Linked DNA regions of Homo sapiens. The protein of the gene in region 2 purifies or fractionates together with the protein of the main gene of each other region. This does not show direct contact. Each region holds a gene or a part of one and is shown on either strand. Other genes may lie near its edges. The genes, in order: SELENBP1, RAB9B, CHML, VSIG8, CDSN, POF1B and SERPINB5.

Evidence for each region.
Region 1: the proteins of RAB9B (region 2) and SELENBP1 purify together in Homo sapiens (affinity purification with mass spectrometry; one large-scale study listed by BioGRID and IntAct). This does not show direct contact.
Region 3: the proteins of RAB9B (region 2) and CHML purify together in Homo sapiens (affinity purification with mass spectrometry; 3 studies listed by BioGRID and IntAct, with this or other methods). This does not show direct contact.
Region 4: the proteins of RAB9B (region 2) and VSIG8 purify together in Homo sapiens (affinity purification with mass spectrometry; one large-scale study listed by BioGRID and IntAct). This does not show direct contact.
Region 5: the proteins of RAB9B (region 2) and CDSN purify together in Homo sapiens (affinity purification with mass spectrometry; one large-scale study listed by BioGRID and IntAct). This does not show direct contact.
Region 6: the proteins of RAB9B (region 2) and POF1B purify together in Homo sapiens (affinity purification with mass spectrometry; one large-scale study listed by BioGRID and IntAct). This does not show direct contact.
Region 7: the proteins of RAB9B (region 2) and SERPINB5 purify together in Homo sapiens (affinity purification with mass spectrometry, with the first as the bait; one large-scale study listed by BioGRID). This does not show direct contact.

The regions. Positions count from the first base shown.
Region 1 is NC_000001.11:151,366,755-151,369,705, forward strand, and holds part of SELENBP1 (methanethiol oxidase), read right to left. Parts: intron 2,801-2,951; coding exon 2,688-2,800; intron 2,436-2,687; coding exon 2,250-2,435; intron 1,566-2,249; coding exon 1,445-1,565; intron 422-1,444; exon of another isoform or gene 262-421; intron 151-261; coding exon 1-150. UniProt on the Homo sapiens protein: Catalyzes the oxidation of methanethiol, an organosulfur compound known to be produced in substantial amounts by gut bacteria. Selenium-binding protein which may be involved in the sensing of reactive xenobiotics in the cytoplasm.
Region 2 is NC_000023.11:103,825,758-103,829,257, forward strand, and holds part of RAB9B (ras-related protein Rab-9B), read right to left. Parts: intron 1,322-3,500; 5' UTR 1,248-1,321; intron 70-1,247; 5' UTR 28-69; coding exon 1-27. UniProt on the Homo sapiens protein: The small GTPases Rab are key regulators of intracellular membrane trafficking, from the formation of transport vesicles to their fusion with membranes.
Region 3 is NC_000001.11:241,633,870-241,637,369, reverse strand, and holds part of CHML (rab proteins geranylgeranyltransferase component A 2), read left to right. Parts: intron 1-1,175; exon of another isoform or gene 1,176-1,296; coding exon of another isoform or gene 1,297-1,337; 5' UTR 1,338-1,572; coding exon of another isoform or gene 1,573-1,603; coding exon 1,604-3,500. UniProt on the Homo sapiens protein: Substrate-binding subunit (component A) of the Rab geranylgeranyltransferase (GGTase) complex. Binds unprenylated Rab proteins and presents the substrate peptide to the catalytic component B.
Region 4 is NC_000001.11:159,853,816-159,856,736, forward strand, and holds the end of VSIG8 (V-set and immunoglobulin domain-containing protein 8 precursor), read right to left. Parts: intron 2,829-2,921; coding exon 2,709-2,828; intron 2,346-2,708; exon of another isoform or gene 2,267-2,345; coding exon 2,068-2,266; exon of another isoform or gene 1,212-2,067; coding exon 938-1,211; 3' UTR 501-937; downstream 1-500.
Region 5 is NC_000006.12:31,114,587-31,117,446, forward strand, and holds the end of CDSN (corneodesmosin precursor), read right to left. Parts: coding exon 1,439-2,860; 3' UTR 501-1,438; downstream 1-500. UniProt on the Homo sapiens protein: Important for the epidermal barrier integrity.
Region 6 is NC_000023.11:85,306,666-85,310,165, forward strand, and holds part of POF1B (protein POF1B), read right to left. Parts: intron 1,552-3,500; coding exon 1,459-1,551; intron 612-1,458; coding exon 498-611; intron 1-497. UniProt on the Homo sapiens protein: Plays a key role in the organization of epithelial monolayers by regulating the actin cytoskeleton. May be involved in ovary development.
Region 7 is NC_000018.10:63,486,958-63,490,457, forward strand, and holds part of SERPINB5 (serpin B5), read left to right. Parts: coding exon 1-126; intron 127-2,389; coding exon 2,390-2,507; intron 2,508-3,500. UniProt on the Homo sapiens protein: Tumor suppressor. It blocks the growth, invasion, and metastatic properties of mammary tumors.

The DNA.
Region 1 (2,951 bases), on a different chromosome or scaffold from region 2:
GTAAGACATTGGGAGCTGCCCACTCAGTGCTGATCATGACATTGTGTCGAGGCTGGTACCAGAAGTCATAGCCCAACGGTGCAGCACCCCCAGGTCTCTCCCATGTCCCCTTCACCTCGAACGTCTCCCCATCCAGCAGCACAAAACCCCCTGAACAGGGAAGGAAGCAGGGTGGCAGGTAGAAGCAGTAGAGACACTAACCCCACCCTCCAGCCCTCTCCCCGAGGCATGTCTAAGAGGCTGTAAGCCCATTGCCTCTACCTCCACTGCTGGATTTGCCAGTTCCTTAAATTCAGGCATCCAGGGCTGGGGGAAGAGTGGCTCATGCCAGTAATCCCAGCCCTTTGAGAGGCTGAGGCGGGCGGATCACTTGAGGTCAGGAGTTCAGGATCAGCCTGGCCAACATGGTGAAACTCTGTCTCTATTAAAAATATAAAAAATTACCCAGGCATGGCGTCACATGCCTGTAATCCCAGCTACTCGGGAGGCTGAGGCAGGATAATCTCTTGAACCAGTGAGGCGGAGGTTGGAGTGAGCTGAGATTGCGCCACTGCACTCTAGCCTGGGCAACAGAACGAGACTCCCATCTCAAAAAAAAAAAAAAAAGAGAAAAGAAAAAGAAAAAAGAAAAGAAAAAGTAAATAAAAAATTCAGGCATCCAAAGGGTCTCATCCAGGTATTCAAATTTGGCCAGGTGGCAGGGGGGCCTTTACGCCAGTGCCCCTGTCTCCTGTCTACTTCATCTCTCTCTCAGACCACAGCAGAAACGTTTCTCCCACGAGATCTTCTGGGACTCAGCACCTGGTATTTCTCTTGTCCAGCCTCCCACTTTTGGAGTGGGATTCCTCCCAGAGTCTAAGCTCCATTCTGCTCACTACATTTTTTTGAGAGAGGGTCTCACTCTGACGCCCAAGCTGAAGTGCTGTGGTTCAATCACAGCTCATTGCAGCCTTGACCTCCCTGGGCTCGGGTGATCCTCCTACCTCAGCCTCTTGAGAAGTGGGGGTTATAGGCCTGTACCACCACACCCAGCTAATTTGTGTATTTTTAGTGCAGAGTTGCCAGTGCCAACTCTGTATTATCAGCAGACAACACAGAGATGGGGTTTCACCATGTTGGCCAGGCTGGTTTGGAACTCCTGAGCTCAAGCGATCCGCTGGCCTCGGCCTCTTGAAGTGCTGGGATTAGAGGAGTGAGGCACAACACCTGGCCTGTTTTGACTATAACTTTGAACTGAATTCATCAGTGAAGACTCATCTTAATAGAAATATTCAAAACTGAAGTTACTTGCTAACATTTAAAATACTGGCTGGGATCCAGCTCACTGGTTCTCCTTGGGAAGTCATTCCAACCCTCCCCTTCCATTCTGCTCCTCCCACAGAAAAATGCTTCCCACATTTCACAGCTGTGGAAGTTTTCATGAGCACACAGTGCTGGCAGGTACCTTTGCCATTGCCCTTGACGTCTCCCAGGGAGCTGATCATCACTTCCCCGCTGGCCAGGCAGTGGCTGGTGTGGAGAAAGGCCAGTTCGCACTTGGCATGGATGTCCTTGGGCTCAATGACCTGGAAGGGGTGGGGAATGGTGTCAGAATCATACAGGACTGGGAGTCCCTGCTCTTAACCTCCATACTTCCCCTACTTCTATCTGCTGACTCTGTCATCTTTTCCTTCAAAACATGGACACAACTCTCCCTGTGGGAATATGACAAAGATTCAGTCTGGTAACTTCTACAGAGCAGCAAGGGAAAGTCAGAGAGATTGCTAATAACTCCCCAGGCAGAAAGCGCTGACCTTTCCCCATGTGTCCTGAAGGCACACGCAGCCCTGTGAAACCATAAGCTCCTCCCAGGCTGGCCTACACCAGTGTCAACTCTGTATTACCAGTAGACAACACAGTAAATGCCTGGCACCAAAAGTGCACTAAACAAAGTGTTGGGAGAGACCGGAATTTTTAAGAGAACCCTGAGCTCCTAACTGCATGGGGGAATAAATGGCTCCCTCCCTCTCTCAGAGTAAAACAAGAAGCCTTGTCCCTCTTCTCCCATGCCCTGGTCACCGTGCTGGAGGGTGATGACCCAGAATGCCTGGGTAGACTCTGCTCTGAGGTCCAACCTCCCTCCCTGCTGCCGAGCCAGTTGCCGCGTAAGAGCTGGAGGCTGCTGGTTTAGGTCTGGCTTCCTGCCCGTAGACTACCTGGGGTGGCAGGTGTCTTATGGTCTACTGAGCTGGCAAGGGCAGAGGACATGCCTTGTGCAGCTTTGGGGCCCGGGGCTCAGAGCCCACGTCCACCACATAGATGCGAGAGGAGATGAGACTGGGCAGCACCAGCTTGGTGCGCGACTTGGTGCTATCACCGAAGCAGCTGCTGCAGGTGTTCCATCCTGAGTGATGCAGCTCGTCCTTCAGGTTGGGCATGGGCAGCCGGTGGATGACCTAGGATGCGGGGAGAGGTGGTGCTCCCCCAGGCCACGCCTCTGTCCACTTTTGGAAGAGGCGCCCTGTGGACTCATTTTGGTTTGGAAGCACGGCACAGGCTGGATTTCAGCACTCCCCTTGTCCCAGGTTGAGCGTGCACAAGCATCCCCAGGGAGGGCCAAGAAGGATGGAGCTGGGAAGGGGGGGCCCAGGGCCAGGGATGAGGGCAGCTATGGTCTCAAAGTAGCTGGCGCCCAAGCCCCGCCTAACCTGGCAATACTGGGGAGACTTGGGGTCAACATCCACAGTGGCCAGATAATCTGGGGCCTCAGTGCCTGTGTTTCGGTAAATGCAGGGCAGGTAGACGATCTCTTCCCTGGGTCCTGCACGGTAGAAAGCAGGCAGCAGGGACGGCAGGGTGGGAAGGAAAGGTAGGGGAAGTGCTGGGTGTGCCAGAGGGTGGGGGCTAGGTCTGAAGTCCCTCCACCCCCAGCTGTGGAATCAGTAGTAGGGCGCTGGCTCTCAGACCATGGG
Region 2 (3,500 bases):
CTTTAAGAGCAGGGATTTCCCACTCATTTTTGCAGCACCAGAAGGGAAGGAGTTTGTAACCAAGAGAACCTGAAAATAAAAGGAAAAGTAGGAGGGAAAACAGTTAAACCTGAAACTGAAATCAACTTCATAGCAAATTTCTCTGAATTATAAGGCCTTCTCATTCAACTTCTCTGATTTATGCTCATTAATTGATGTAGTACAGCAGAAGAAATAACACTAATTTTGCATAAGGGGAAAAATAGGTCTTGTTTTTCTGAGGTCTTTTGTTGTGCCAGGAAAATGGCTGAGTGCCATGGGTAAATGGACTAGCAGATGGTCCTGTAATTTGGTTCAGTTCTGACCCAATTCTAGGAGAGGAAGCCTAGAACAGGAATGCCACTCAAATGTGTGACAACTTTAGCTTCCGGTTTGGACAGTTCCAAACAATAGACAAATAGTATGAAATTGACTTGGGGTTTGAAGTCTGCTCCTGATGGATACAAAAATTACTGAGAAGAGAAAGCTACATAAACTGGATTCTTGATTCTGTCGGTAGAGGTCTGGGCCAGAATTAGACTGCACCCCAGAATTTGAAAGAGAGAACAAGGTTACGTTTCTTCAGGCATTTACCCCATTATACTTGCATTGATAGGAACACCCTCTCAAGTAAGGATCTTCTATATTTTTTTCTTCATGGAACAATGGCATTTAAGTTGATGACAATTGACTGATATCAATATAACAGCTGTCATGAAGGAAGGAAATCTTGAATAGCTTATTAGTTTTTGGATTCAGGTTTTAATTCCATAATAGCAACATTTGAAAACATACTGCAAAATTTAAAGTGCTAATATTTATACAGTACCCTACTTGTTACCTCCACAACATGTCTACACATGGAACACCTAGAATGTGTCTTAAAATAAAAAGATCAAATGCTTACTGAACAAATACTACCTTTTCCTATATTCTGTTAGGTACTTTCCCACTAGGTCTATTGTGGGAACTCAACGGTGATGAGGTTAATTGGATGATATTTATACAATAGACCCAAAGGGATGAAAACGAATCACTAATCGAAGGAGTGCATGCAAAACAGTTTCTGGAAGCACACACATTTGAATATAATTTTACAAAATTTAGTAGCCCTTAAAATGATTTTGGAATGCCTATGTACTAGCTATATATTTTTCTAAATATTCATTTTTAAGAGATCAAATATTAAAATATCCCAAATCCACAGTGTGCCCCCTTGAAATACCTACCCAGTGGGTTTTTGTCACAATTTAAATATTTTCCTTTTTTTCCTGTTGTTGTTTTATTCTTTCTTTTTAGGGTGCTATAAAACAGAATAGAAAACATTATTTTAAAAAAATCTATAATAAAATAACGTTAAGGCTCTATATAAAAATATATTCAAGTCAGAAAAAAAAAAAGAACCCACAGCAACCTCAAGTAACCTACAGAGGGTGCTTTTCAAAAATAAAAGTTCAAAATGCTACCTATGCTTAACATAAGCAAAATAATTTTATTCCAAGAACTTTAACTTATCCTAATTTGTAATTTATATAATTTTTTACATTTTATATTGTCTCTCAATTGAATTCTCCATTCAAAGTAAAAGCAAATTAAAGAAAGATGATATTCACAATAGATGACATTCAGGAAAAGGAAAGTACAGAGCAATCTAAGATATGCTGAAATCCTAAGTCGGAGATGAAACTTCTTCCTTTTATACCTACCAACGTTCCCATCTCCAAGAAAGTTGTTAGTGCACTCACCAGTCTGTCTCAAGGTTGTCTCTGCAATTGATTCCACATAATTAGAGAGCAGAAAAAAATTGTGTTTGTGGGCTTCCTGTTTACAATAAAGTATATTATCTTGGCTAATTATTTTATTAATTAGTTTAGGTCATTTTTCTTTTCTTTATTTATTTTTTAAATTTGAGACAAGGTCTCATTCTGTCACCCAGGCTGGAGTGCAGTGGTGCAGTCATGGCTCACTGCAGCCTCGACCTCCTGGGCTCAAGTAATCTTCCCACCTCAGCCTTCTGAGTAGCTGGGACTACGGGCATGCACCACCATGCCCGGCTAAGTTTTGTAGTTTTTGTAGAGATGGGGTTTCACCATGTTGCCCAGGTTGGTTTCAAACTCCTGGGTTCAAACGATCTGCCCACCTCATGTTCCCAAAGTGCTGGGTTCACAGGCGTGAGCCGCTGTACCTGGCAGTTCATCTGTCTTAAACACCAGTTTTAATATTTAGCTGGTGTTATTAAATTTAAATATACATTCATCTAATATTATAATTAATTATGGCAAGAATCTTATTTAAGCAGCATCAAGAGTACTGGTTTAAGAAGAAAAACAGTGCCTAGATCTGTGTAGTGTTATTTCTTACTGAGGAAGAACGAAGCTTTAAAAAAAAATCTGCTGCTTAATAATCACATGTTATTTTCTAAATATAGATAAAACTTATAATAAGGATTCATTAGATATCTAAATCAGTAATTATGAATTTAAATAATATCTCCTAAATGGATAGGCTTTATCCTCCTTCTTGGTTTATATACACTCTACAGAATTCTCAAGTTTCCTACAATTCCTAATTTTTGTCCTCTTTTTCCTGCTCCCAAATTGCTGTCTTTGGAATTAGCTCAAGTAACAAACATTTCTTTAAATGGAGATGAAACAAGTGTTAGCACACTTTTTTATTTTTTTATACTGGTCTGTAGGATAATTTTACAGAGCAAAACTCTTGAACTCTCATTTTGAAAAGCAACAGAAGTACAAACTTGGGCATGATTCTGATGGCTAGTATTAAGCGTCCAGGCCACACAAGCTTCCTTGAGTTCCTAGCAAACAGGCGTTCACATCATTAAAAGACTCACTGACCCTATTCTCCCAGTTGCAGATAAACTCAATAGACAGGTCAAGGACTGAGTGAATATGGAAACCAAATGCTCAGCTCCAGGAATAATGATGATGTATTAATAACTGTCTGAGATAATGCTGCAGTTGCTTGTGCATTCCCTATTTGGTTATGTGCACACATAACTTCTGGGCCTATAGGCTCTATGCCAAGGGAAAAAGAGGAAAAGCAATGTGGTTCAGTGTCAAGAGCACTGAGCTAGCTGGCAGTAATCAGGACACCAGGGTCTTCATCACTGTTACACCATTCATTTATTTTATGAACTTGGGCAGGTCATTTAATCTTTCTGTTTCAGTATCTTCTTACATAAAAATAGAGCAGATAATACCTGCCCTACTTAACAGGATTTTGGGGGAGAATGAAAAGCTTATGAAGTTTGCAAAGATTTGTAAGCATTTTTTGAAAAATTTGGTTTGAGATTTTTATTCCTCTGGCTCCTCCACCTCCTTTCATGCACTGGTGGGGGCCTTGTGGCTCAGTATTAACCCTTCTCAGAAAGGGCCTGCTAGTGAAAGTATAAGAATTCTTCCTTTTCTCTTTCTTCCATATTTGAGAATGCCTTGTTCCTCAACAAGCTTGAACATCTGCAT
Region 3 (3,500 bases), on a different chromosome or scaffold from region 2:
ATATTTTTGAGACAGAGGCTTTGACTAGACAGGACTGTTAGGATTGCCATTTTAGTTAAACTAAAGGTGTGTGCCCTATGCAATTTAATCTAAGTTCCAATTGAATGGCTTGTTTTTCCAGTATCCAGGATTATTAGTCATCTTGGGCTAGACAGGTACAGCTTGTACTGATTTATATTTCAGTAGGTTTAACAGTAGTGAAAACCAGAGCTCAAAACTGTGCAATGATGAATATTAGAAAGTTTAGCAGTATTGTTGCTTTAGCCTAAAGACTTTCAGGTGAGTATGCTCTTCAGCACCTTGGCCTTTCTACCTCTGGCCACACAGGGCATCACACAGATGTCTTCCGCACATGGAATGTAACCAGCATTATGCTCAAAGTTAACAGGAGAACCTTATTATTTTTTTTTTTTTAAACTTCCCCTTCAAAAATAAGAACAAACAGTGTTAGTCTTGGCAGAGGATGTTTAGATAGACCTTTTGCTTGGGATGCAGAGATTCAGGGTTGCAGAGACAGTGGCGAAATGCAAACATCACTGTATTCAAATGTTAGAAGTAGGTATTATTTATGTTAAGATATTTTAATATGAAATCAGAAGTTTTCCTTTTTTACTTACACTTACACACTTTTTTCCTTTATTACTTATATGCATGTGTACATTCATATAATATTTTTAATACATTTTCCTCCTCAGGGCTATTATGAGCCTAAATATTTTTAAATGGCCAGTTGTTTTACTGAATTAATCCTTTTGTAATAATCTGACTAGTAATTGAGTAGAAATAGTCTCATGTTGCTACCATGAGATCCTAAGGGTGGTTGTGGCATGGAAAGGTCTTATATTCAGCTGTTCTGGAATCACACATAGACTGTAATGGCCACAGAAATATTTTGAATCATGGCAGTATGCACATAGTTTATAATCTGTTTCTATAAACAGTGGAGCCATGCGTTCCTTTTAGTCTAAGCTCACAGCTGTGTATAGATTTATTCACATGATAGTTTTCTTAAAAGCTAAAGTTAGAGAATTGTATTATGTTATTTCTTCTTTATTTTTGTGGAACATTATGTTCATTCTCTATTACTATGTTGCCTGATTCTTGGGAGGGCTGTTATATCTCTATTGTCCATTCTCAAGAAATTAGAAAATATGTGAGAAAGCATTTAAGACATGCTTTAGTAGAGGTTTATGTCCAAATAAGATGTCACACTCCAATGGATTGTCATTGTTGCATGAAATTATTTTTCTCTTATATTGTTTACAATGTATTCTTTCTTGAATTTTCTTCTTTCAGAGAAGAGTTCCAGTCACAAATGCATATATGATGCATTTTGACATTTACTGCTAAGATGAAATGCAGAAATGAAACCACACATCCATTTTAGTATTCTCAGATGTGATTAGATGTACTTGCTCATGTTTTTATGCTACTGACTTATAAGAAAAAAAATATTTTAAAAGGGTAACCGTTAAACAGCTAGGACCTGCAACTTCAGTGCTTCTGGGATAACTGGAACATCAGAAGGACAGATTTTATTACAGCATAATCACACCTCATTTCTTTCATCAGCAGTTGTCACCAGACGCTGTTACTTCCTAAAATGGCGGACAATCTTCCCACAGAGTTTGATGTGGTTATAATAGGGACAGGTTTGCCCGAATCCATCCTTGCAGCTGCATGTTCAAGAAGTGGTCAGAGGGTTCTGCATATTGATTCAAGAAGCTACTATGGAGGAAACTGGGCTAGTTTCAGCTTTTCAGGATTGCTATCCTGGTTGAAGGAGTATCAGCAAAACAATGACATTGGGGAAGAAAGTACTGTTGTATGGCAGGACCTGATCCATGAAACAGAAGAAGCCATCACTCTTCGCAAGAAGGATGAAACTATTCAACACACAGAAGCTTTTTGCTACGCCAGTCAGGATATGGAGGACAACGTTGAAGAGATTGGTGCTCTGCAGAAAAATCCTTCTTTGGGGGTGTCTAATACCTTCACTGAAGTTCTGGATTCTGCATTACCTGAAGAAAGCCAGTTATCGTATTTTAATAGCGACGAAATGCCTGCAAAACACACTCAGAAAAGTGATACAGAGATTTCACTAGAAGTAACTGATGTAGAGGAATCAGTGGAGAAGGAAAAGTATTGTGGAGATAAAACTTGTATGCACACAGTTTCAGATAAAGATGGAGATAAAGATGAAAGCAAATCTACAGTAGAAGATAAGGCCGATGAACCAATTAGAAATAGGATTACTTACTCTCAAATAGTTAAAGAAGGCAGGAGGTTTAATATTGATTTGGTGTCAAAACTGCTGTATTCTCAAGGATTGCTAATTGATCTTTTAATCAAATCAGATGTTAGTCGTTATGTAGAATTTAAAAATGTCACTAGGATTCTTGCATTTCGGGAAGGAAAGGTAGAACAAGTTCCTTGTTCCAGAGCAGATGTCTTTAATAGCAAGGAACTCACCATGGTTGAAAAGAGGATGCTAATGAAATTTCTCACATTTTGTTTAGAGTATGAACAACATCCTGATGAATACCAAGCTTTCAGGCAGTGTTCATTTTCAGAATACTTAAAAACTAAAAAACTAACTCCCAACCTTCAACATTTTGTACTGCACTCAATTGCAATGACATCAGAATCATCTTGCACTACAATAGATGGTCTTAACGCAACTAAAAACTTCCTTCAGTGTCTCGGACGGTTTGGCAACACCCCCTTTTTATTTCCCTTGTATGGCCAAGGAGAAATTCCCCAGGGTTTCTGTAGGATGTGTGCAGTTTTTGGTGGAATCTATTGTCTTCGTCATAAAGTACAATGCTTTGTAGTCGACAAAGAATCTGGACGATGTAAAGCAATTATAGATCACTTTGGTCAAAGAATAAATGCTAAATATTTTATTGTGGAAGACAGTTACCTTTCTGAGGAAACATGCTCAAATGTGCAGTATAAGCAGATCTCTAGGGCAGTACTCATTACAGATCAGTCTATACTAAAGACAGATTTAGATCAGCAGACTTCCATTCTGATAGTTCCTCCAGCAGAGCCAGGAGCTTGTGCTGTACGGGTCACAGAATTATGTTCTTCAACCATGACATGCATGAAGGACACCTATCTGGTACATTTGACATGTTCATCTTCTAAAACAGCAAGAGAAGACTTAGAATCAGTGGTGAAGAAATTATTCACTCCGTATACTGAAACAGAAATAAACGAGGAAGAACTTACAAAGCCAAGACTCTTGTGGGCTCTTTATTTTAATATGAGAGATTCCTCGGGAATCAGCAGAAGCTCGTATAATGGCTTGCCTTCCAATGTTTATGTCTGCTCTGGGCCTGACTGTGGCCTGGGAAATGAGCATGCTGTCAAGCAAGCTGAAACACTTTTCCAGGAGATCTTTCCAACTGAAGAATTCTGCCCTCCACCTCCAAATCCAGAAGACATTATCTTTGATGGTGATGATAAGCAGCCAGAGGCTCCTGGAACCAATAATG
Region 4 (2,921 bases), on a different chromosome or scaffold from region 2:
AGCACCCTAGAACTGTGGCACTTAGTTTTTTAATATAAGAGGTTGTAGTCTTATTTTCACATGTCCTTGTTTCTGTCTCACCGGATGCCTGTGCCTTCTGTGCTCCAAGGACTGGTTTCCTTTTAGCTTTCAGCAACATACAAAGACTCCCTAGACCTTCAGAGCACATTATTCTCAATAGAAAATCTTGACATGTGAAAACTTTGAATATTTAGAAATGGCAAGTGTATTGCACTTTGTCGGTTCCTCAGTTTATTTTACGGTCGTAGATATTCTGAGCTAATTCTTTTTGTCTTTGTTTTCCTTTTATCTGCACTTTGTATGTTGTTCAGAGGAGTTGCCCTGGATGGCCCCTTCCAGCTCTGACTGCCAGGGATCTAAGCAGGAGGGAGGAGAGGGGGCGTGGTCGAGGCGAGCGACAGAAGCAACCCTCCCCGGCCCTGGGCAGGGTTCGCCACCCCGTGCCCAACCTCCGTGGAACGCGGACAGCCACTTCGGACTCACGTCTCAATGTTTCTTTATTGTGCTAACACTGCTGCCTCAGAGCTCAGACCTCACACACAGAACAATTCGTCCAGACAGACCCCCACCCACCCGGCCCCCGGGGCCCTCTGCTTAGGCTGGGGACACCAGGCCTCCGGCCTCAGCCGCTCTAGGACACTCAGCCTCCTCCTCCCTCCCTCTCCCCCAAGCCTTCGGTCCCGGGGGTGCGGAGAAGGCTCAGGATCGCCTTCCTCCGCCCTCGCCCGCCCCTTCCCACTTTTGGGGAGGAGGCTCTGCCTCCCTACGCATTTCCTTAGGGAAATGCCTTCACCCCCAGCCGCCTGGCAGCCTGGGGCGAGCGAGGTCGTCCCCAGCCCCGACGTGTCCCCAGCTGCAGACAGAGAGCCCCGCGCCCTCCTCCTGGCTGGGGCGCAGCCCGGCCCGGCGCGCGCGCTCACACCAAGAGGCCGTTCTTGCACTGCACCGGCCCCTCGGCGCAGTCAGCCGGCTCCGCGCTCTTGACCTTGACGTAGACCGGGGAGGGGCCCGCTTCGCAGGCGGCGGCGGCGGTGCAGGGCGCCAGGGCCACGTCCTCGGGGCCGCCGCAGGGGGGAGGCGCGTACTTGCGGCGCAGGGAGCGGCTGACGTTCTGCGTCGGGTACCCCAGGAGGTGGGTGACGCGGCTGCCGCGCCCGCTGGCCTTGCACCCGGGCGCCACGGCGTCCTCTCTGTGGAAAACAACAGGCGGGCGGGTGAGCGGGCTGCTCCGCAGCGGGGCGTGGGCACGGCCTGGGCAGAGCCGGGGGCTCTTGGCAACCTCTTGTCTCCCGCGCCTCCCTCCACCTGCCCTCGTCTCTCTCCCTCGGCCTCGACCTACTGTCCTTTGTGACCCTTCCTGGGTCGGCGACCCTGCAGCGGTCCCGGAGCCAGCATCCCCATCCTCCAGACAGGGCTTGTCCACGCGTATCTGGAGAGCCCTGCAGGCAGCCCCCTCCAGGCCCCTGCAATCCCTTTCTGATGTTTCGCAGGCCCAGAAGAAGGTGCTTTTCCTCTTCTTCTTTCCTTAGCTAATCCTGACCTTGCTCGAGCAATCTCTCTCTTTCTCACCTCCTGCCCCTCAGTCTTCTCCATCTTTCCCTCCATCCCCGAGGCATTGCAATCATTAGCACTACTAGACTTGTTCTATTTTTATTTCTAGTTTGCTTCTAATATAAGTTATTAGCACTATTCTTATTATTAGCTCTTCTTAAATAATAATGTCAGAGTTCTTACCGGCGCAGTACAGGGGAAACGTGAAAAAACATAGGCCCTGCCCTCCAGGAGCTTACAGTCTAGACAAGACAGACAGGTGCGTAGGCAGGAGGGAAATGGAAGGCAGGGAGCAGAGGTGAAGACTGGGGTGGCAGGGGGAGGGGAAAGCCATGAGTTGGGTGGCAGGTCGACATGCCGCAGTCCCAGCACTCCGTGGCGATGGCGGGCAGGGTTGGGGTGGGGGGCCCAGCCGGCCGGTGGCAGGCAGGAGTGAGGTGGGCAGGGCGCCGGTTCCCTGCCGCACAGCAGCATGCAGCATGCATCAGGTTTTACCTGATCTCACTAGCCAAGTCGCCGCAGGCCCCTCCGCCGACCCCGCCGCCGTTGCCGTAGCCGAAGGCACCGCGGGCGCCGCCAGCCCCGGAGCCCCCGCAGCAGCAGCAGACGAGCCCCCAGATGCCTACGGCCAGGCAGCCCAGCGCGAGCAGAGAGCCCAGGACGATGCCGATGATCACGCCTATACGCCGGGAGTCTGTGGAGAGAAGTGGAGGCAGGTCAGGCTTTCTCACAGCCTGGCAGGTGCCTGAGGGAACAGCACCAGGAGGTGCCAGGTCAGGGGTTAATGGGAAAGAGGGAGAGGGACCCAGGGGGTCTCTTAGCCCTGGAACACCCAGTGGGGAAGATATGGGGAGATGCAAGTTAACCCCTCGTGTCAGCATGCTTCTCCCAGGGCTTCCAGCTGCTCTGGGCTCTAGAGCTCAGAGTGGAAGCTGTGCTGGGCGAGCTTGACCCAGCTCAATAGGGTCAAGATCGTACCCACTGATCTTGGCCCACTTGTAGGAAAGGGGCTGGGAGCCCCCACTGGCAAATGGATGGCAGTGGAAAGGCAGAAGCAGCTGAGGCTCCAAACCAGAGCCCAGCCTCCTCCAGTTCAACCCTCCCAACCACCCAGCCCTCAAGACTGCTGCACCTACCTGAGACCTTCACCTCCACCACACAAACACTGTAGCCCACGTTGTTGGCCACTGTGCACTGATACAGCCCATCATCTGCTCTGGAGATATCCTTCAACACCAGGTCCCCATTGTTCAGGCCTGAAAGTGAAGTGGAGAGAGGCCTGGTCTCTGAGAGCTCCCACCCCAACCTCAGTCCCTGTGGGGTGGGGGATGGGACACCCACTCTAGAAG
Region 5 (2,860 bases), on a different chromosome or scaffold from region 2:
GACCCCAGCAGAGCAGGGAGTGTGAAGATGGAGAGACCACCGGCAGCTCTGTTCTGCCACAGGCTGGGCCTCTTGATCTAGGCCAGTGAGTCACCCTGCTTGGCTGCACTCCCTGCCCTGCTCCCATCCTCTCAGTCCTTTACTCTCTCCACCCCCAGCTCCAGGAACAACGCCCAACTGGCCTCCTACTCAGCTGACAGGAATCTGGTTGGAGTTGTTGTGTCCCAGCCTTCCCAAGCTTCCAGGTGTCCCAGAAACCCAGGAAATCGAGACTCATGACTCCCAGAGAGGATGGCATCTAGAAGGTGAGGAATGCTAATGGTGGAAGAAAAGGAGTTTGGGTGGGGAGGGGAGGGGAGGGGAGGGAGAGGAAACACTGAGGGCCCTAAATAAGGGGAAGGGGGACCCCACGGTGAATGAGGAATGGGAAGAGAATGGATTTCCTGGAGCAATGAGAGAGGAGGGAAATGGCGGAAGGATCTGGGAGGCCAGGCAATCTCTGCTTTCAGTTCAACAAATATTTATTGTCTTCCTCCTCTGTGGGAGCAGCTGGAAGGTAGAAGAGAAACACAGCCCGCTTTTGAAGGAAAATGAGGAACACAGAGACCTCTAGAGGCGTAGGAAGAGCACCACCCAGACTCTCAGAGGAGACCCAGGACTCCAAGAAGGCAAAAAGTCTGCACCTAGTCCCCACAGTTTACTGAGCCATCTGTCCAGGATCCAGGGACAGCAGGGAGCCTGCTTCAACCTCTGAGGGTGCCCCAGTGTCTCCCTCACCCAGGGAATCATCTGAGCACTGAGGGAAGTGGCCACAGGAAGGGGCTGAGATAAGGGCCTTGAGAGGCAATGGGTGTGTTGGGGACGGTGATCTAGGAGGGCGTGGTGAGCTCTGTAATGGAGGGTGGGGTGGAATTGGGAGCGAGAGCCCAGTGGCATATTGGGTGGGTTGACTAGATGTCGAAGAAAGGTCAGTGAAAAGTGGCCACTGTTTCCAGATGATGGTTTGACTTTGCTTTATTTGGTAAAGGGGAAGAGGAAGGTATAACTTCTTCAGGCGTCAGAGGTGCTCTGAGAGCATTTCAGGGGTTTCCCAGTTGAGAAGCTGATGGGGGTGTTACTCAATGGACCATTTCCACACAGTAGAGGGAATTGTAAGGGGTGGTGATCTGGCTGAGGGGCACTGTGGTGGAATGGGAATTTAAACAGTAGGAGAGAATCAAGAGAGGAGCTTTGAATCTACCATTTTGAGAAGAGGAAGGAGGAAGGGGTGATAAGAGAGAGTCTGCAACCTTGGGGTAGTGGAGAAAGCAGAACCACTCTTTTGGGAAGGAGGGAAACTGAGCTAACCCTATGCCTGGGCACTGGACTTCTCCCATATGGGATATAGTGTATGTGCTTGTTTGTGCCCAAGGCATGCACACACACAACAGTTGACTTCTTATGGACTGTTGAGTAACTCTCCTTGGGGTAGGAAAACTTCAGGGTCAGCTAGCTGGGGCCCCAGAGGCTTCACTTGGGCTAGGATATCCCGGATGGAGCGGCAGGGGATCTTTCCAGCACTGCTGGAGCCACAGGGCTTGGCACCAGCGGAGGGATCAGGATGGGGAGAGCCATCGGGGCCCCCAGTCAGTGTCAAGGAGGAGACAGACATGCAAGGGTGACCAGAAGAGCTGGACTTGCTGCCACAAGGCTGAAGGATGATTTTGCCACTGGATTGGGAACTGGAGCTGCTGCTGAAGGAGCCGGTGCCTGGTGGGGAGCAGGGGCTCTGGGAAGCACTGCCGCAGGGATGGTAGGGTAAACCGGAGCTGCTGGAAATGCTAGAACTGCTGGGGACTCGAGAACTGGAGGGAGAGCAGGGTCCCTTGGAGCCCGTGGAGCCGCCTCCACAGAGCTGGACCCCACCAGTCCCCACTGGCTGGAATGCAATGGCCGAGGAAGCTGCCGACTGGCTGGGGATGATGGGGTTGCTGGAGAAGTATTTGCCCTCAGAGATGGGGGGCCCAGCTGCAAAGGAAGGGACCCCTGGAGAGCCTTTCACAGGGTTCTCTTTGGTGAAGTAGCCCACAGGGTAGATTTTACCCTTACTGTAGGTCATGCCTGGAACCAGATAACTGTCAGAGGAGCCACCCACCACCTCGTAGCCACCATAGGATTTGTCTACAGAGGTGATTGGGGGACAGGGCTTGCCTGGAAGGCCACCATTGCTACAGGGGGGACCTTGAACCACTCCAGGGGCACCAGAACCGTGCTGGTCCACCACCACCACCACAGGCCTCTGACCCCCTGACACAGAGTGGGAGCTGGGGATGTAGGGGCCGGAGTGCGAGACGATGGGCCCTCCACTGCAGGGAGAGTCGGGGATGTCCGAACTACAGGGACGCTGGTTGGAGCTGACGCTTTGGCCACTGCTGGATACCCCAAAGGTCTGGGAAGAGGAAGAGCTTTGTCCAGGCTGGGAAGGGTTTAGTATTCCGCGGTAAGAGTTGTCATTGGTTGGCAGAGCAGAGCCATTCCCTACTTGGAAGCTGCTGCTGCTGAACTGAAAGCTGCTGCTGCTGCTCGAATGAGAGCTGCTGCTTCCCGAGTGAGAGCCGCTGTTTCCCGAGTGAGAGCTGCTGCTCCCCAGCTGGGAGGAACCGGATGCACCTTGTAGACTAGAGCCAGATCCGGAGGAGTAGCTGACCTGGGAATACCCCGTTCCTGGCTTAAAAGATCCTGCAGAACCACCCTGGGCAATGCTGGATCCGCTGGAGCTACCACTGGAGCCACCACCAGAGCTTCTGGCACTGGAAATGGAGCTGCCAGAACTGCTGGAGCCACTGTAGCTACTGAAACCGCTGGAGTCACCCTTCCCAGT
Region 6 (3,500 bases), about 19 Mb from region 2:
CAACTAGTAACTGAGCAAGAATTTGGGACAGCCATAGGAGTAAAGATCAGGAAGAGGGTAATCCTTAGAGACTACTTACAATTTCCTAGGAATTCTCTCTGCTCAGACATCCAGAGAATTCATCTAGAGTTTTTTCAGTCATTTATTTATTGCACAAACATGTATTAAGGTCTACAACAGCTTTTCTCATTGACATGTTAGTACATTAAATAAATGCATGAACCTAGATTTTTAGTATTTCTACAATTCTGGTCACCCAACAAGACAAATAATTGTGTCCCATATGTACTTTATATCTAAAATAGATAAGATTATCTGTTTTTCTGAGAGGGCTTTCAGCCATTAGAAATACCCAAAGCCACTCAATTCTCATATGAACAAATTTTTCCATCATATTTAATTCTGTCTTGATTATATCTCATAACTCCAATGTGCCAGTAATTGTGCATATGAAAAGCTATCAATGTAGATTAACACCAATAAAAGCATCAGTTTACCTGCTGCTGGTGATTATTTGCTCTCACTGATGCCAAGAGTTCTTCGTACTCTTTTAATTGAGTGTCTTTGAATGATAAATCTTTCTCAAGTCTCATCTTGTCATTTTCCAGTGACTAGAAGCATAAATTATTTATTATGATTCAGAATTGCAAAAACTTAACAGTCACATAATACAAAGACTTGCTTACCTTGGAAGATTTAAATAAGCACTTGTTTCATTTGTACTTGCTTAATAAAGCAGAATTCTTAAAAGTTAAGAAAATACGGGATAGGAAATGATTGAAACTTCTAAAACCTTCATTGAAAGAGACATTTTGATGGACTAACTATACATGAAATGAAGCACAACCCTCTGAAATGTTTTAATGTTTTCCTCCAATCTACAAAGAGTCCTCGTTAATCCCAGCGAGTGGTAAATTTTTAAATTAGAGTCTAAATATGTTCATCATAACCCAGAAACAACAAAACTACTCCAAAGTCCTCAAGGCATTATTCAATGTGTGGAAAGCATTCTGAATGTATCTAGCTGATGGCACCAAGAACACCAATTAAAATAGAAAATGGAAAAAAATTAATTTTTTGGAGAAAAATGTTTTCAAGTTATTATATTTGAATGGAAATTCAGAGTATGCTTTATAATTATGAAAAAGGGGGAATTTACCTCCAATGAGTCAGATTATTTTAACTTTGCAGATGACTCTCTGGCTTTAAGCATTAAATTGCCTTAGTGGTAAACTAAATGATAAGTGCACATCCAACATTCTTTCATTTATACTTTGGATACCTCTTTTCTCCTCTCTCAATGCCAATTAACTGTTTGAAGAAAATAATTTAGCTTTGTCTGAATAAGCATAATATTGTGCTATATTAAATTTTAAAAACATATACTGGACATCTTTATTTCTGTATTAGGAAGCTAGTAACTAGAAAGGCTTTGGAAAAAATCAAAATAAATCTTACTGTCATATCATTTTGAAGATGTCCAAGCTCCTCCCGTATGTTGCTAAATGTGGACAGCACTAGTCGGAGTGACTTATCAGACATACCCCTCATCTGCAGGAAGAAAGGATTAATGGTTTAGTTTTATTAACATTTGAAAATAGGCAATATAAGTGAAAGTTTTTTTTTTCCTACTAGCAAACTTATTAATAATTTTACTTTGATATGGCAAATTAGAAAGGTGATATAAGGCATTTTGTCAATAGTGTGTTTAAGTAATCCAAATAATATTCCTGAAGATAGCATAGCTAGTATTTATAACAAATATTTATTATTTTTTCCATGATAAAGTATCATCTTTGTCACAAAGTAGAATTCTATCAGCAAAATTTAATTTTTACATTATTCTTTATTTAAAAGATTAGAAGAGATGAGACAGTCAATAATCAAATAATAAAATGAATCTCCCTAAGTGTATTGCCAACTGCCTGAATTTTGCCTGAGGTGAGAAGAATATAATTATAATTAAGTTTAACTTTAAAGTATAGAGCTATCTAAATATTTTTGGTTTTTTTTGTTTTGTTTTTGTTTTTTTACCAGAGTCTCACTCTGTCGCCTAGGCTGGAGTGTAGTGGCATGATCTCAGTTCACTGCAATCTCTGCCCCCTGGGTTCAAGCAATTCTTCCACCTCAGCCTCCCAAGTAGCTGGGACTACAGGTATGCACCAACACACCTGGTGAATTTTTGTATTTTGAGTAGAGAACGGATTTCACTGTGTTGGCCAGGCTGGTCTCGAACTCCTGACCTCAAGTGATCCACCAGCCTTGGCCTCCTAAAGTGCTGGGATTACAGGTGTGAGCCACTGCACCTGGCTTATCTCAAATTTTAAAGAGAGGGGAAACTCTTTTACTAGATTATTCTTATTTCTTTAAAGAAAAATGGTTTAAAAAACAGACAACTTCAGCTTCTGGGAAGATGGAGTAAAAATACTTTCCACAACCAATCAGACGTTGTTTAAGGTTTAACTTTGTAACTTCAGCCTCTGATTGGTCACTTTCTGCAACCAATCCGACTGATAACGGGCCACTACTTCATTTACATAGAGTGTACACCAAGTTACCAATGGGAAACCTCTAGAGGACATTTAAACCACATAAAATTATATAACTGTGCACTTGAGCCAATTGCTCAGCCCACTCCCACCCTGTGGAGTGTGCTTTCATTTTCAATAAATCTCTACTTTTGTTGCTTCACAAAAAAAAAAAAGAAAGAAAAAAGAAAAAAAATACTTTTCCCTAGCCTTCCTGTTAATTGCAGCTAAAAACCCTGGACATTATATATAAAACAAATATAAAAAGACCCAAATTGGTGAAAAGAGAAATGATTGGTTAGGAATCTTGGGACCTGAGAAATGACACAGCAGTGAGTTCCTGGATTTTCTTTTTGCTTCATATATTAGATCAGTGTTGGGCAAGCTGGTGATCTAGTTACATCAATGGACAACAAAAGTCCTGAGAAAAGCCTTCTCTCTCTAACCAAAGGACCATGAAAGGGTCAGCCTAGCAGGACAGAAAACTTTTAGATAGTAACCACTCTATCTTAGCCAAACACCACAGAAGAAATTGCAACTCTACTTCCACACGGACCACCAAAGGCCAAGAAGAGAGCTTAGACTGCCCCCTTGTCAGGCTCTAGGGAGGTACACAACACCATTCACTGGGATGGTGTCAGAAAAGACAGAGTGAAGAATGGTGCTTTCATTCCTACTGGCCAAAAATGAAATTCCATGCACTGTGATGTCAGTTGAGACTGTGAAGGGAGCTTGGGCTTTCACCCTATCGCATCAAGAGAAGCTGAGTGGGGGAACCTCAACTTCCACCACCAGCTGGCAGTAATAGGTAGTGCACACACTTTCTCTGATATTTGAATATTTGAATGAGACCCAGAGAGTCACAACATAAAAATGGCCAGGTCTCCCATCCAAGTACTAGCCAGGCTCAATCCTGCTTAGCTTCTGAGATCAAACAAGATCAGACATGTTCAGGGTCAATTGAAAATCACT
Region 7 (3,500 bases), on a different chromosome or scaffold from region 2:
GAAAATGTCAAAGATGTACCCTTTGGATTTCAAACAGTAACATCGGATGTAAACAAACTTAGTTCCTTTTACTCACTGAAACTAATCAAGCGGCTCTACGTAGACAAATCTCTGAATCTTTCTACAGTAAGTTGTTTAAAGCAAGTAGCAAGACTTAACTTTTTACAAGGAGTGGCATTTTCATGCTGTTAGACCTACAACTTTTTTTCAGTGAAATTCCTTTCTAGGATGTTCACTTGTGATTTGAGGCTTTAAATAAATAAATCCTAGTGGAGAGGTTGAGTATAGTGGGAATCAATTGCAGTCACATCTTCTAACTCAAAATACAGAGAAGCTTATGGGCTTTCCTTTTCTCTCTCAAATAAATCTTACCCTTTCTTTTACCTTCCTCTGAGAGAATGGAGAACAGAGTAATTAACTCTCTAATAAATGTAGCTCCATAGACAATGAGCTGTCTTACAGAGTGTAAGACAGCTAATGATTTAAACTTCTTTCTCCTTAAAGAGCAGGGCATATGGCCTGGGACAATGTTTTAAGCTCTCCACCTCATTTTTTATGCACACATTCTTCTGATGTTTCTCAAAATCAGTAAGAAAAATAATAACTATGAATTCACAATTTTCATCAGTCACAAATTAGTTTTGTTGGCTGGGCTGGTCAGATGGGGATCTCCACAGGCAGCTCTGGTTATATAAGTTTAGCCATTGCTCTAAGGAATCATACAAACACCACTACGGTACCCATTGTTGTAATATTTAAAAATCTGTATTTGAAACACACAGACAATATTCTAGACTACATGAAGTTTCCCTCTGTACTTCAGTAACACAGAGTTGATTTAGTTCCTGTTTGGATGGTCAGAATTTCAAGGTTTCCAAATCGAAAAGCTAGACTACCAGCTTTTAAATATTTTACCATGATTTTGCAACTTTCTGCAGTAGGTATTTTTGTGGTTAAGATCTTTTGAGGACATGGGTTACTAGATATTGTGAGTATATTTTTTGTTGCTTAAAGATACATACACACAACCATTTTTCTTCCAACAATCATCTGAAGAATTTAAAAAAAAAAACTGAGATGTGAGTTGAAGCCTGAGCATACAACATTTCTAGAAGCTCCCTAAATGATCATTAAAGAGACAATTAACACATTTTTATTGCTGGCAGTGAGGACAATGGAGGCCCTCCTTCATCTGGCTGAGGCTTTCTAATGTTTTCAGGTGAGATTGGTTCTGTCAGTCAATGGTGACAGTGAGTCCCAAGGTTGATTTGCAATTAACTGAAGCTAAGTTAATTGGCTAAGGCTGAAGCTGCTCTGAAGAAATTCAAGAAGCCCTGTGCTTGGAAGTGAACTGACATGACACTGAATCAAGTTATATTTAGTTTCACTGAACTTCCATGCAACATCTGGAATGATCTTAACCAGACTAGGAGTTGTAAAGTTTTGTTTTGTTTTTTTCCTTGGAGATGGAGTCTTTCTCTGTTGCCCAGGCTGGGGTGCAGCGGCATGATCTCGGCTCATTACAAAAGATTTTTTAAAAGACTGCTTTCCATTGCTCCTGCTAGGTGCACAGCATCTGCAAATTTACTAGTTAAAGGTCCAAACAAGTGTGCTCTGTGGAGGATCTCTTGCATAAGAACTATCTGGGTGTTAAAAGGGCAAGTTCTTCAGGCCCTTTTAACACCCAGGTAGTTCTGATTGAACCCAGGTAGTTCTGATTAAACCCAGGTAGTTCTGATTGTCAAGGTGGGAATGGGGTTTAGGGTTGCACATTTTAAATAAGCATTAGAATAAGAACTCCTGTTATGTTCTCTCCTGCATTGTGTTTCCAACCTTAATTTGCAGATGGCACACCTGGAAATTTTGTTAAAATGCATTCTGATTCAGTATGTCTGGGGTGGGGTCTGAGATTCTTTATTTCTAACAAGGTCTCAGGTGATGCTGTACACCACCTTGGACCACAGTTTGAGTAGCAAGGGTCTACAGGATATTTAGTTCAGCAAAGACAAGAGTTTTCTGCTCATAATTCTGTTTTCTATACATTTCCTATATTCTAATATATATGTATCTGTAGACATACAAAATTTTCATGTTTCTGAAATTACAACCCATAAGAGAATTGGGCATATTTAACATAGTGTTTTCCCCAAAGCTGATATTAAATTGATAGATGCATTTAATAATTGAAATTGTCTTATAATTGAAAAAAATGAAACATTCAATACAAAGAAATTCACTGACTTCTACATGAGGTTTCAATTCATATAGTGTTACCAATTTTGAAAGTGTACATATAGCAGTTGATATTTAATAATCCTTTTGTTAGAAGAGAATAACAATGCAATAGCTTGACTACAGACTCTGATTTTATGAACTGCATGTTTTTCAGGAGTTCATCAGCTCTACGAAGAGACCGTATGCAAAGGAATTGGAAACTGTTGACTTCAAAGATAAATTGGAAGAAACGAAAGGTCAGATCAACAACTCAATTAAGGATCTCACAGATGGCAAGTACCCTTTAATTGTTCTGCTATCAATCACCAAGTAAACAGGGCCTTCCATCTCATAAATGTTTGCTCCAAGGATAAAAAAAACATCTGGAGGATTCTCTGGATATTTTTACTACACAAGCTAAATTCTTTCCCTTCAAGCCTGTAAACAACTTGGATTTCTGGGCAATTCTTGTATCATCTCATCACTTGGTAGAAACTGTTGATGCTTCAGTGTTAGTTTACTTTGTCTTGCTCTCTGACGAGCTGTCACAGGCCCTAGTGGAATCCTAGCTGCGCCTCTAACAAAGTATGACTTTGGGCCAATCATGAGGCCATTTTTCAGTCTGGAAATAGAGGGACTGGATTATAACTTCATGATCCCCGAGGCCCCTTTCAGCTGACAAATTTTACAAATTTGTTAAGGAAAAAGGGACATAGGCAACATATGTAAAAGAAAAACCGGCTGGACGCGGTGGCTCACGCCTGTAATCCCAGCACTTTGGGAGGCCAAGGCGGGCGGATCACGAGGTCAGGAGATCGAGACCATCCTGGCTAACACGGTGAAACCCTGTCTCTACTAAAAATACAAAAAATTAGCCGGGCGTGGTGGCGGGCGCCTGTAGTCCCAGCTACTCGGGAGGCTGAGACAGGAGAATGGCGTGAACCCGGGAGGCGGAGCTTGCAGTGAGCAGAGATCGCGCCACTGCACTCCAGCCTGGGCGACAGAGTGAGACTCTGTCTTAAAAAAAGAAAACCAAACCAAACAAAACCGTAGTGTCAGCTTGTCCTCGGTGCCGCAGCTCCCCATGCTGGTCGTTCCTCTGATAGCCCCGGGGTCCAAGAAGCTCCTAGGTTCTTTCTCCGGCTCAGTGCTTCCCCCAGGCGTCTCCCTCGTCGGACTCCTCGTCCCTCCCTTAAAATTGCCGGTGAGTCGTCTTCCTTGCTGGAAAAGAATTAGGGTTATGATGATTTTGAGGGCAAATCAGTGACTTTGTCCCCCTCCCCAGT